Linked DNA regions of Homo sapiens: all the other regions are reported to be linked to region 1. The links are microRNA targets in miRTarBase. Many come from high-throughput screens and were not tested one by one. Region 1 holds a microRNA gene; each other region holds the end of a gene's coding sequence.

The links. The annotated mature microRNA hsa-miR-2117 reads UGUUCUCUUUGCCAAGGACAG and lies in region 1 at 2,020-2,040, opposite strand. An mRNA with a match to its seed (bases 2 to 7 or 8) in the 3' UTR can be bound and repressed. Matches are read on the target gene's strand: a 7mer-m8 pairs with bases 2 to 8, a 7mer-A1 pairs with bases 2 to 7 and ends in A, and an 8mer does both.
Region 2: miRTarBase lists VGLL2 as a target of hsa-miR-2117. The part of its 3' UTR that is shown has no 7-base or 8-base seed match.
Region 3: miRTarBase lists TUBGCP4 as a target of hsa-miR-2117. Seed matches in the 3' UTR shown: 7mer-A1 at 708-714 and 7mer-A1 at 740-746.

The regions. Positions count from the first base shown.
Region 1 is chr17:43,442,553-43,446,895 of GRCh38, reverse strand. MIR2117 (microRNA 2117) reads right to left here and starts at 2,090; the gene lies at 2,011-2,090. It overlaps MIR2117HG (MIR2117 host gene), which reads right to left and starts at 2,189. Exons shown (of 2, transcript NR_146952.1): 1 at 1,988-2,189. It also overlaps the pseudogene RNU6-406P.
Region 2 is chr6:117,271,822-117,276,164 of GRCh38, reverse strand. It overlaps VGLL2 (vestigial like family member 2), which reads right to left. Exons shown (of 4, transcript NM_182645.3): 4 at 2,600-3,711. The coding sequence ends at 3,671. Among named protein-coding and RNA genes, the nearest start is that of VGLL2, 8.4 kb to the right of the region's middle.
Region 3 is chr15:43,404,712-43,408,759 of GRCh38, forward strand. It overlaps TUBGCP4 (tubulin gamma complex component 4), which reads left to right. Exons shown (of 18, transcript NM_014444.5): 18 at 491-4,048. The coding sequence ends at 503. TP53BP1 (tumor protein p53 binding protein 1) reads right to left here. Exons shown (of 28, transcript NM_001141980.3): 27 at 3,232-3,377; 28 at 1-2,859. The coding sequence ends at 2,672. Among named protein-coding and RNA genes, the nearest start is that of TUBGCP4, 36 kb to the left of the region's middle.

The DNA.
Region 1 (4,343 bases):
AAATAAGCTTGACATAAAAGGCCACAGATTGTGTGATTTCATTTATGTGACATATCAAGAGTAGGCAAAGCCATAGAGGGAGAGAGTCTCTATGGCTCGTATTTGCCAGGGGGTGGGCGGAAGGGGAAATGGGGAGAAGCTACTGTGGATTCGGGGTATTTTGGGGAGACGAGATAAAAATGTTCTGGAATTACTGGTGATGGTGGCACAACTTTACAAATATACTAAAAACACGAAATTTTACATTTTTTTTCTTGTAAATCTAGGTCTGAACAGATAATTGTATAATTTGGTAACTTGTTTTCCTCTCTTTTTTAGAGACAAGGTCTTTCTCTGTCACCCTAGCCAGAGTGTAGTGACGTGATCATAGCTCACTGTAACCCCAAACTCTTGGGCTCAAGCAATCCTCCTGTCTCAGCCTCCTGAGCAGCTAGGATTAAAGGCACTTGCCACCATCCCCAGCTAATTTTATTTATTTATTTATTTATTTATTTATTTATTTATTTATTTATTCATTCATTCATTTATTGGTAGAGACAGGGTCTCGCTGCATTGCCCAGGCTGGTCTCAAACTCCTGGCCTCAAGTGAGCCTCCGCCTAGGCATCCCAAAACCCTGGGATTGTTTTTTTTGAGACAGAGCTTCACTCTTCTTGCCTAGGCTGAAGTGCAATGGCGAGATCTTGGCTCACCGCAACCTCCACCTCCCGGGTTCAAGCAATTATCCTGCCTCAGCCTCCTGAGCAGCTGGGATTACAGGCATGCGCCACCATGCCCGGCTAATTTTGTATTTTTAGTAGAGATGGGGTTTCACCATGTTGGTCAGGCTGGTCTGGAAATCCTGACCTCAGGTGATCTGCCCGCCTCGGCCTCCCAAAGTACTGGGGATTACAGGTGTGAGCCACCACACCCAGCCTTTTTTTTTTTTTTTGAGACAGAGTCTTGCTCTGTCACCCAGGCTGGAGAGCAGTGGCACAATCTTGGCTCACTGCAACCTCCGCCTCCTGGGTTCAAGCGATTCTCTCGCCTCAGGCTCCCGAGTAGCTGGGATTACAAGCACACACCACCATGCCCGGCTAGTTTTTGTATTTTTAGTAGAGATGATGTTTCACCATATTGGACAGTCTGGTCTTGAACACCTGACCTCAGGTGATCTACCCACCTCGGCCTCCCAAAGTGTTGAGATCATAGGCGTGAGCCACCGTGCCTGGCCTCAAAACCCTGGGATTACAGGTGGGAACCACTGCATATGGCTGAGTTGTACACTTTAAAAAAAATTTTTTTTTAAATATGGAACACTTCACAAATTACAGTGTCATCTTTGAGCAAGGGTCATGCTAATTTTCTTTGTATCATTCCAATTTTAGTATATGTGCTGCTGAAGTGAGCATTGAATTGTATAATTTAAAAGGGTAAATTTTGTGGTATACTATACTAGTTTTATGGTATACCATAAAATTGTGGGTATACTTTATAAAAATAAAATTATGGTATGTAAAATGTTACGGTATACCATAAAATTATGGTATACTTTATGGTATACCATTAAATTGTACTCAGGCAGTATGAAAAACTCAGTATAAAAAAATTCATAGACCTGTACACCAACAGAAAAAATTTTACTGCATAATTTAAAAAATAAAAAAAAAATTAAGTCCTGTGTCCGAAAGGCAGGAGCCAGGTTCTCACCTGTTGTGTGTCACCTAAGTTGCCTCATACAATAAATGCTGAGGACAGTGGTTCCCGGACGTGGGTACATGTCCAGGAACCACCTGGTTGGGGGAGGTCTTTGAAAACTTCTGATGCCTGGCAACCGCCCCCAGGCATTCAGATTTAATTGGTCTGAGGTACAACCTGGGTACTGAGATGTTTTTTTAAAGCTTCCCAGGTGATTCTAACATGCAGCAAAATTTGAGAACCACGGGCTTAGCAAAAGGTTGATGAACAACCATTCTTGGGAGCCAAAAGCTAATCCCCGCCCCACCTTACCTCACTTTCACCTCAAGGCAATCAGATCAGATCTGTCCTTGGCAAAGAGAACAGCTACAGCCAATCCTGCTGTTCACCATGCCGGACAGAAGTAAATCAGAGCATTCTCTCCAGTTCCTTAAGGGCCACTGCTCTCTCTATAAACATGTGGTTGATGAGATCAGCAATTCTGAAGCAGGATCCATTCTACAAAGCATGGTTTCTTCCGTTCTCCCCAGGTTTTCTCTCTCTTGCTGTCCCCATTTGTAGCTGGGGTTGGGAAGTGGAGGAGAGAGAAAGTCACTGAATAAATACATTCTCTGTGTTCTCAATGAACAGACATGAAAGAAAAGAAAAATGGTAAATACATTCCTAGTAGGGTGAGCCTCAGTAGGTTTCTGGATTACCCTTCCCAGAAACATTCATATTTTCAAAGAAGACCTCCTGGTAAACGAAGACATGAGTCACTAGTAAGGAAGGTTTTGAGGGACAGGGTCTCTTTCCTTTAACTTCCCAGACACATGTCTGGACTGGTCCTGATTGTTTGACCTGTCTGTTTTCTTAGAACAGAGCATGAGATCCTAGCTAGCTGCATTCCATTCACTTAACAATTTGTTGTTCGAATTTATTTATTTCAGTTACGATTAGGTTTTGTCTGTGGCATTTATCGTCTTTCTATGCCAAGCAGTCTCACACTAACTTGAAAGCCCTTTTGTATTATCTACTGTGTTTCCTACAGGTGAGTCTTTTCACCTTGTCTTAGTAATTAAGACTTCTGGTTGTAGATTACAAAAACCATCTCAAGCAAGTTTAGGCAACAATGGGAGTTCTCAATGAGATTACAGGTGGAACCAGGAAAGTTAAGCCTCAGGGAGAGCAGGAATCCAGGCATACGTGGTCTTTATCAGGGAGTAGACACCAGGGCCCCACCCCAGTCAATGGGGAAGTCAGATCTCAGAGAATAATAATCATTGAACATGAATTGAATGTCTGCTATGTGCAGGAACATATATTATTGATAACATATTCTTATGTTATCAGTATGAGTTATATTACTATTGCTCTTCCCATTTTATAAATGAGGAAACTGAGGTCCACAGAAGATAAGCAATATGTTCAAGAGCTTCCAGGCCAGGTCCGGTGGCTCACACCTGTAATCCCAGCACTTTGGGAGGCCGAGGCAGGAGGATCACCTGAGCCTCAGAGTTTTGAGTCCAGCCTGGGCAACATAGGGAGACCTTATCTCTACAAAAAATTTAAAAAGTAACCAGGTGTGGTGGTGGTGCCTGTGGTCCCAGCTATTCAAGAGGCTGAGGTAGGAGAATCACTTGAGCCCGGGAGGTAGAGTCTGCAGTGAGCTGTGACTGTGCCACTGGACTGCAGCCTGGGTGGTGGAGAAAGACTCGGTCTCAAAAAAAAAAAAAGAAGTAGGGGGTGGGGGGCAGTTCCAGTTGGCACTGGAACTCAGGCAGTATGGTTTCAGAATTGACACACTTAGCCACCAGGTGAATGGTTCCCTTAAGAGTTGTACAGTGGGCAACCTGCACACCCATACCTGGCAGCCCTGACTATGGACTAGATCAGTGTTTCTCATCAGAGACACTGAGGACATTTGGAGCTAGATAATTTTTTGTGTAGGACTATCCCATCCTTCATTTACTATATGTGAGTGGTAATAACGCTCCCAATCATTGTGACAATCAAAAGCCAATCATTGTGACAATCAAAAGTATCAACCTCTTGAAACTTAAAAAAAAAAGAAAATGAAAAAAAAAAATTTAAGTATCAACCTCAGTTGAGAATCACTAGGATAAGTAGATAGCCCCAAATGATGTCTACATCTATTTTGTGAGCTCTTGATGACCAGTAGCAATGTGACTTCTTTTCCTCTTCCCACAGTAGTTGGCCCAGACAACTGTATACATACTCCACAAATGCTGGATGTGCATTGTCATTAGAGCCTGAAAGGATCCAGAGTCCTCAGCTTGGTGCTTCCCTACCCAGGATGATAGGGATGGAAACATGAGTCATGCATGGTAGATTCACTCCAACATCCTACGGGAAGACACAACAGTTTTCTCAGTTTTTCATTTGGTCCGCTGAACAAGCCAGCATGGTAGAAGGGCAGGAATTAGTCATTCCTATTATGAAAAAAGAATGTAACAGTAAAATTGTTTTTAATTTTGGCAAAGAAAAAAGTAACTATAAGCCTATCCTCTGCACAACTACCCTGTTTTGCATGTTACCTCCTGGCCCTGTCTACATGCTCTCTCTCAGTGTGCACGGTTATAGTCAAAGGGTATACCATCTGGGGTTCTGCTATTTTCACTAAACATTTATAAATGTTTTCCTTGTTGCTACATGGTCTTCATAATGA
Region 2 (4,343 bases), not on the chromosome of region 1:
AGTGAAAAGAGAAGTGTTCAGTCAGGGTTTCTGAGTCTCAACACCCACCATCTCCCATCCAGACCCAAATCAATCTTAAGATATTGCTAGAATTTGCCATGCATTTAAATAGAACTTCAAAGGGGAAATGAGACGGGATGGCAACTCTTTTTACACTGAAGGAATAGAACAGATAGAATTCCCTGTAGCTGGGTGACCGAATTCTCAGCCAGAGTGCAATCGGCAAAAGGATTACTTGGTGGTGGAGAGCCGTCTCTTTCCTTTTCATCACCTCTCCTTCAACCTAGGCCAAGTGCAAAGGGAAAGCCGTGGGCAAAGAGGACACTAGTGCCAATGGGGGTGATTAGAGGAGAATGTAACCTTTCTCTGAGCCCCCTGACCAGGTATAACATATGTAAAAATGTCATGTTTGCCTTTCCTCATGCCATCCCACATTTCCTTGATGTCCTTTTTTCAACTGCTAGAATCTTTTCAAATCTGCATGGTTTGACTACTATTAGCAAGACAGGTATGAGAGTTCATATTTTGTGTGACTTGAAGTAAGCCTGCAGAATGTCAGTTGGGGCTACCATTTCTCCAAAGTTCTCTTTGATGCTCTTATTACACAGAACCAAATCATTATGGATCTAGGTCATCTTGCATTTCTACCTTAGGAAGGTGTGGAATGGAGGGAAACGCTGTGGTTCGCGTGTCATACGTGCCAGGTCGCTGGAGCCTGGACTGGCTCAGCAGTCTGGACGGTCTGTTCAGGACCGCCCCAAAGGCCAATTCCAGTGAATGAGTCTCCTTACCAGCAACCTGATATTCAGGTCAGATGTAGCTTAGGAGAGAAGTTTCAGTAATCAGAACCTTGTGGGTGGGAAAATGTTCCCTGTGGGTTCTGATCACAGATCTTGTGAGTGTTAACGCAGGTGGGGTACAGGTAAACAACCTCTTCCGGTGGGGAATATGTGGAGATGTCCAGCAGAGAATGCACTGCCATGCTTTCTTCAACAGTATATTTAGTAGCAAATTCTGAAAAGCACACTGGGGCTTAATGCATTTTATTTACACTTGAATATACCAGGGATTCATGCCAGTGGAACATGGATTAAAACAATCCACAGAGAAGTCCAAAGTTAATTTTAGTTATTGCTTCAATGTCCAAACCTCAGGCTAACTCTTACACAGCTTGATTAGGTTGGGTGTGAAGAATTTCAGAGTGGTGAAGGCTGTTAAATACTGAAGTGAATAAGAGAAGCAATAATAATTCCCTCCTGGAGAAGAATAGAGAGCTGTACCTGACTGAATGGTCTAAGTAGTGTCATTTGATGGAGTTTGGACAATGTCCTACGACAGTTCCTTTAAGACTTGGGCTTCTGTAAATTCTACCAAAGCATCATCAATCTGTGCTTCTCTGACTTTTTTCCTTTCTTTATGCATCTATTGTGGAGAAAATAAGCCCAACGTTGAAGATCAAAGAGACAAATCAGAACTGGACAAGCAGTCACACAGCGAATAACAGTGCAGCCCTGCACGGGGGCTACCTGGATTTGCAGCCTGACTCTGCCACTGACGAGCTTCATGACTGGGCAAATAATTTCTCCTCTGTGTGCCTGAGTTTTCTAATAGGTAAGAAGGAGAACATCGTAATAAATAGCATACAGAATTGTTGTGAGGTTTAAATGAGTTAATCTATAGAGATCAGTGCCCAGTACGTGATAAACAATTAACATTAGTTATGATTATGATTATTGTTATCACATGTGATGCACATAATCATAGAGTACCTTCCATCAGAGTGCAAACCATATTCCTGGAATGATCATATGTACTTCACAGGTAGCCAAATGACAGAAAGAGGGTATGGGGAACTCTGCCAAGCTCATGCTGTGAGTTAGATCCCTTAACTGCTTCCAATTCTTGAGACTTATCCAAGATAAATTATATTCGCCTCTCATGTTATAATGAAGATCAAGATTTGAACTAATATTTTTATGTGTTAACAAGGTACAAGGGTAATCTGAGCAGCACACAAAATCTCTCTACTGGGCACTTTTGTGAAAGAACAGAAATAACTTTGGTATCAAGAGGAAACAAGGGGAAAAACTACCAGTTTCTTTCTTAAAAATCTTTTTTGCCTAGTGAGAGATTTGGTTTCTTAGCCTAGCTTATTAAAATATAAAATAGCCAATATTTCAAAAACACTTTTAACTGATGACTCTACTGTCTTGAGTCTAGAATTAAACATGTAACAATAAATCTTTTCTGGAAAATAATAAATCTGTACCAGGTAGTGCTTTTTGTACCATCTTTGCTTCTAACTTCTGAATGTTAACAGGCAAGCCCTTGGCCTCTGTAGGCCACAATTTTCTCATCTGTAAAACAGACAGGGGTACCTAACTTCTCGTTCTCCAAGGTTGATGTGAGATGGAAACAGCTAACAGATTCATAGCACAGCAAACACGGTGGAAACACAGAAAGATCTATCTATCTATCTATATCTATCTATCTATATATATGTAATATTACTGACATCAAATCATACTACTGTGTTATTTTATTCTACTAGAAAAAAACTAAGTTATTTATTTTCTTTTTATGAAACAACACAGTGAGCTCATAGTAAATAGACATCTTTAATGTTCGTCTCTTCTTCCTCATCACCTTCAGCTTTGCCCACGCACAGACCCTTTCCCCTGTCCCAACACTAAAGTGACCAAATCACAACCAGTGAGACTGAGAAAAAAATTCGAGGTAATGGAGACTTCATGTACATTTCTTCCCCTTGTGGTGATTCCTAGTTCTTCTCCATGGAGACAGTTGGGGTCTCTCCTTGCTTTTTACATCCAGAGGATACAGGGACAGAATTCGTGGGAGAGAAGGCAGAGAAGGGTTTCTTCTTTCATCATAAAATGTTCCTTGTAAAAAATATGATATATATGCATACATATATATATATAATATACCCAGTGCAATTGCAATTGTTCTGCCAAATACTGAGAACTGCCACCTTGGGTGATGTATTTCTGGAGTTTTCAACAGTTGTCTAACAACAGCTGCATTTTAGTAAGACTTGGGCAGGTGGCTCCAGATAAGCCACTTGCCACTCACATTCAGGCTGAGGCTTCCATGTTCACAGTCCAAAGGAAAAAAGTGTATCTTTGCGTCTGGAGTGGGCATTGTAGGGAAGGGATGGGCAGGAAGGGATCTGGAGGCTGAGAGGTGAGGAAGAAGGAATTGACTTCTCTTTACTTCTCTACCACAGTCTTAGATGCAAGTACACATACAATTTAAAATCTGACAGTAGTAGTGCTATAATCACACTACCTAACAAAATAATTCACATCAGCATAAAAAATATTCACACCAAAAAGTTTCATTTTCTTTCCCCCGTTCCAAGAAAGCTTATGATATCACATCACCTGACTCAGCAATCTCACCACAGATATTTCCAGTGATTCGGCCAAAAGTCATTAAACATAACTCAGTCTTTGGATTTGCTCTTTCAGCAGCAGGACTTATTTTTAGATGAATTTCTGTAGTTGTGGTTTTTGGTTTTCCCAACACACTGAGAAGTCTGAAGTCTCTGCCTTCCCCCATGTCCTCATCCACGGAGTGAGAGGCACAGATGCTGAGCCTCCAAGGCTGGTCAGAAGGGAAGGGGAAGGGGAAACCCTGGGTCAGCAGATCAGCTCAGGAGGGATGCACCACAGAGGGAATAACGACGAGCTGCAAACCAAGATCAGAAGCTGTTACAAACCCACTCCATTTCAGCTCTGAGTGCCATCAATTGCACTATGCAGAGACCTACAGGGAAGAAGGTGGGCGGTCTAAAACCAGTACACATCCTTGCTTTTGTCCTGAGGCTGCAAACCTGAAAATAGAGAGAAGATAAAAGAGAGAGGAGGTGGAGAGGGAGGGAAAGAGAGGGAGAGGGAGAGAGAGAAGAAGAAGGAGAAGGAGAAGGAGGAGAACAAAGAAGAAGAGGAGGAGGAGGAAGACAAAGGGAGGGAGAAAGAAGGAATGGGGGAGGGAAGGCACAAGATATTTAAGGAAAGAAGGACAAAACACCACTGTTTTATTGTGAAAGTCACAGACTTCACCTAAAGTTGGGGGCGGGGTGGGGAGGGGGGCGGTGACTGAAAGTAAAAGCAAAGCAAACCGAAAAGTCAAATCACTTGAGGAAAGGGGCAGTGGGCAGACTATAAAGCCAGTGATTGCACTTATTATATAACTATTTCTTTCATTTGCCCTAAAAATAAGAAAAGAAGGCAAAAAAGCAAGCCCTTATTAGACTGTACGTTGCAAATACTTTAAGCCAAAGACTTAGGATTGTCATTTTAAAATATTCTTTAAGATTT
Region 3 (4,048 bases), not on the chromosome of region 1:
GTTATTTTCTAGTAGAAGTCATCATCATCATAAAATACTAAAAAACCTGACAGTGAGATAGGTGTTAAGTCCTTTGCTAGGTTATGTATTGCTATGCTGGGAGGCAGTGGGCCTTCCACTCCCAATTCTGATATGAACTAGCTGTGCAGCCGTGGGCACCCCGCCTTGCTGGTCCCTAGCTTCCGCATCTGTGAAAGGAGGCGACCACCCCTTCTAACTCTAAACTTTAAAAAAAACTGATACCGAGATTCAGTGGTAGCTGGCTTCCCAGAGGTCTGTCATTCCCATTCAGAAAATCACTTCATTGTCCTTTCTCTCTAAAATGTCTGCAAGCAGATTTTTTTCTAAGCTATTGTAGCAGAAGAGTCAAAAGAAACTCTTCAGTTTTAAGATGACATTATTTAGATCACAGGTTATCCTGATTCATATTTCTTTGAAGGTAGTCTTGGGAAAGCATGACACTTAATAAGGCTCTTTTTCTCTTTTGTAGTTTCGGGATGTGAAAATTTCTGGCTCATAAATTGAAATAACAGCCACGTTCCCAAGGTTGTAACAGAAGATTCAAAACATCCCATTCTAGCCACACACAAATAAATATCTGCGGCTTAGTGATAGGACTCTACCTTTTCTCCTAGAAGCAGTTACTGAACATCCAGGAGTACAACTCCTTCCCATCATTCCCATGTGGAAGGGTCTCTCCCATCAAGGAGAACATGTGGCATCTCTGATCCTTTACATTGAGAACATTTGTTGGATATGTTCATTTATTCAATAGTCATTTATTGAGCACCTACTACGTACCTTGGTACTGTTCAAGCTGTGGGAGATACAGCGGTAAACAAACAATATAGAGCAGAAAGTTAAATATTTTATGGTTCATATGTGAAAAAGTAATTATGTTTATAAATAGACTAACTGCTGGATGTTACCACCAAGTAAGAAAGCAACAGGTAAGATAGGCTTTCTCTCTCCCTATACCAAGTAATTTATACCTACACAGATTGGGCAATTCTAGCTAATGAAAATATACTTAAAAGTATTTCTTAGGCCGGGCATGGTGGCTCACACCTGTAATCCCAGCACTTTGGGAGGCCGAGGCGGGCGGATCACCTGAAGTCAGGAGTTTGAGACCAGCCTGACCAACATGATGAAACCTCGATTCTACTAAAAATACAAAAATTAGCCAGGTGTGGTGGCATGTGCCTGTAATCCCAGCTACTCAGGAGGCTGAGACAGGAGAATTGCTTGAACCTGGGAAGCAGACGCTGCAGTGAGCTGAGATTGTGCCATTGCATTCCAGCCCGGGCAACAAGAGCGAAATTCCGTCTCAAAAAAAAAAAAAAAAAAAAAAAAAGTATTATTCTCCAAGAAAAAGGTCCTTAAGAAAAAATTGAGATCAAGTTGTTAGATTTTTAAATACTGAAGATTGCAGGCCCAATTACCCATCTTACACAAACCATAGGGGTTGAAGTTATCTTAATATGGCCCAGCCATCACTGGTAATCAATATTCATATCAGTGTAAGTAAAAAGAAATATTCACTGAACAACGCCCTCCAAACTGAAAAAGAATGCAGTGTTCTGGCATCAGGTTATAGTCACTGCATCTGGTTTTCATCACTACATATTCTACACACACTGGGAAGCTCTGACAACTTATTCCCTGCTATTATCAACTAAAGATCACCCTTTCTACTGCTGTCTCTGGAGCAGGAGCTGGCAAACTATGGCCTGCTGTCTGTTTTTGTACAGTTTTACTGAAACACAGCCATGCCCATTTGTTTACTCATTGTCTATGGTTGCTTTCATGCCCTCACAGCAAAGGCGAGTAGTTGTGATGGATCAAATGGCCCACAAAGCCTGAAATATTTACTCTTTGACCCTTTACAGAAAAAAACCTTGTTGACCCCTGCTTTAGAGAATGAGAAGCCATGCAGGGATCAGTGATGCCAGAGGAAGGGAAGGAACTGCTTCCAGCTATTGTGACAATAATAATAATAATAATATTGGGTCTTTGACTAGAACGTGTAACATTTCCAGGTGTTCTCACTTGTGCTTCCCATGTTTATCTTACGGAAGGTCATTCCATCAAGCTTATGGTCACTGTCCCTTCATGGCAGTTGGTCCTTTCGTTCTCCCTTTAGCTCTAAGAGTTGGGGAGTACCCACAGGTGAGCTGTGATCTCAGCTCAGAGAGAGAGCATGAGGTCTTTTTTAACTGTCAGGAAACAGAGCTGTGCCCAATTCCACTCAACTTTTGGCACAACTGTTAATCTGGGCCTTCACCTACCTTAAACTGAGTTTCTGCAAGCATAGCATTTTAGACACCCTGGAATAACCTTTTGGGAATGATGCCACAGAATAAAGTTCACTCTTAACTTTTCAATTTCCTTGGCCAGCTGTCCTCCGTAAGTGAATAAGCCTGTTGAAAGACTCAGAGAAAGTACTATGTCTTGTCATTTGTTCTGAGATTAAGCTCAAAAAAACAGATGAAGAAATCCCAGTTACTACAACCAAAGAGATTCAACATTTATTTTATCATAAAAGTTCAGCAAATAAAACTATATACAAGATCCATGCAAGGAATCCAGTTACACACAAGACACATTTAAAACCTGGTTAAAACACAATCTCCACGATAGCAGGGAATAAAACCAGTAAGACCAAGTATCTTTAGTGAGAAACATAATCGTGTTTATATTTTGGATGCTGCTTGAATCCAATTCTCTCCCCAACAATGAGGCACTGGATCACCCACTCTTGTGACACCACAGGCAGCTGCAATGCTTCAGCACACTTCAGCACCGAGGCTGGGCATGAGGGGTCCGTCACCACCACATCAAATACCCCTAAAGCAATATCTGCAAGGAGCAAGGGAAAGTGAAGAAGGAAAGGACACTCAACTTAGCCCTCCATTAGAAAGAGAGATTTGATTCTAACCAATACATCCCACTCTGCACAAACCAAAGCCCTATTATGTCAAACACACTGCTACTGATCATGACCAAAGGCAGAGTTATAATCACTATGTGCTGACCTTGTAGAAATATTTAACAAATATACGTCCAGTGCTTCACTTATGTTGACTCACCTCTTGAAGGTGGTACTTTTCTTCTCTAAGAAACATGGATACGGTCAACCTATTAGGCCTGAGCCTTGGACCACAAGGCCTAACACCTACAGGTCTAAGGAGATCCCTGGAACAAAGACACTACACACACTCTTTCAGGTACCTTTGTTATGGGCACTTGAATGGTGCTGCTTCACAGAGGCTGCACCACCAGTCATGAGGATCTCAGACCAGAGCTCCAGGAAGTTCTGCTGTTGGTCTGATACCAAGAGTACCTTCAGATTCTGGAAAGGATTTTCACGGGGTTGCCTATGAAGGAGACAGGAAAGGACCTTAGCATGACAAGTAATATCCAACAAACTGCCTTTCTGCAAAGGGACTCATGTACATCTGAATGCTTTCAAAAATAAATGCCCCATCAGACATAGTGTCTCAAGCCTGTAATCCCAGCACTTTGGGAGGCTGTCGTGGTTGGATCTCTTGGGCCTGGGAGTTCGAGACCAGCCTGGGCAATGTGGTGAGACCCCATCTCTACAAAAGACAACAAAAAAATTAGCTGGGTGTGGTGGCGAGTGCCTGTAGTCCCAGCAGCTTGGGAGGCTGAGGTAGGGGGATCACTTCAGCCTGGGAGGTTGAGGCTGCAGTAAGTCGTCACTGCGCCACTGTACTCCAGCCTAGGTGACAGAGCAAGACTTCATCTTAAAAAACTAAGCCCTATATTAGGGTCCCCCTTCTCTTCCTTCTTTCTATGAATGATCTGTATTCCTTGCATTCCTGGCTTTCTAATTTCCATGTTTGTTCTGGGGCTGAGAATAATCCAAATCATGCTCCTGAGCCTATATATTTTTAATGCTTGCTTAAAACTTAGTTCTCTGACTTTACAGGTTGAGAATATTGAACCTATATACAAATCTTCACACATTTGCAAAAGGTTCCTAGCCAATGTAACCTAGGGAAATAAACTAGATAAACTCCTGAAG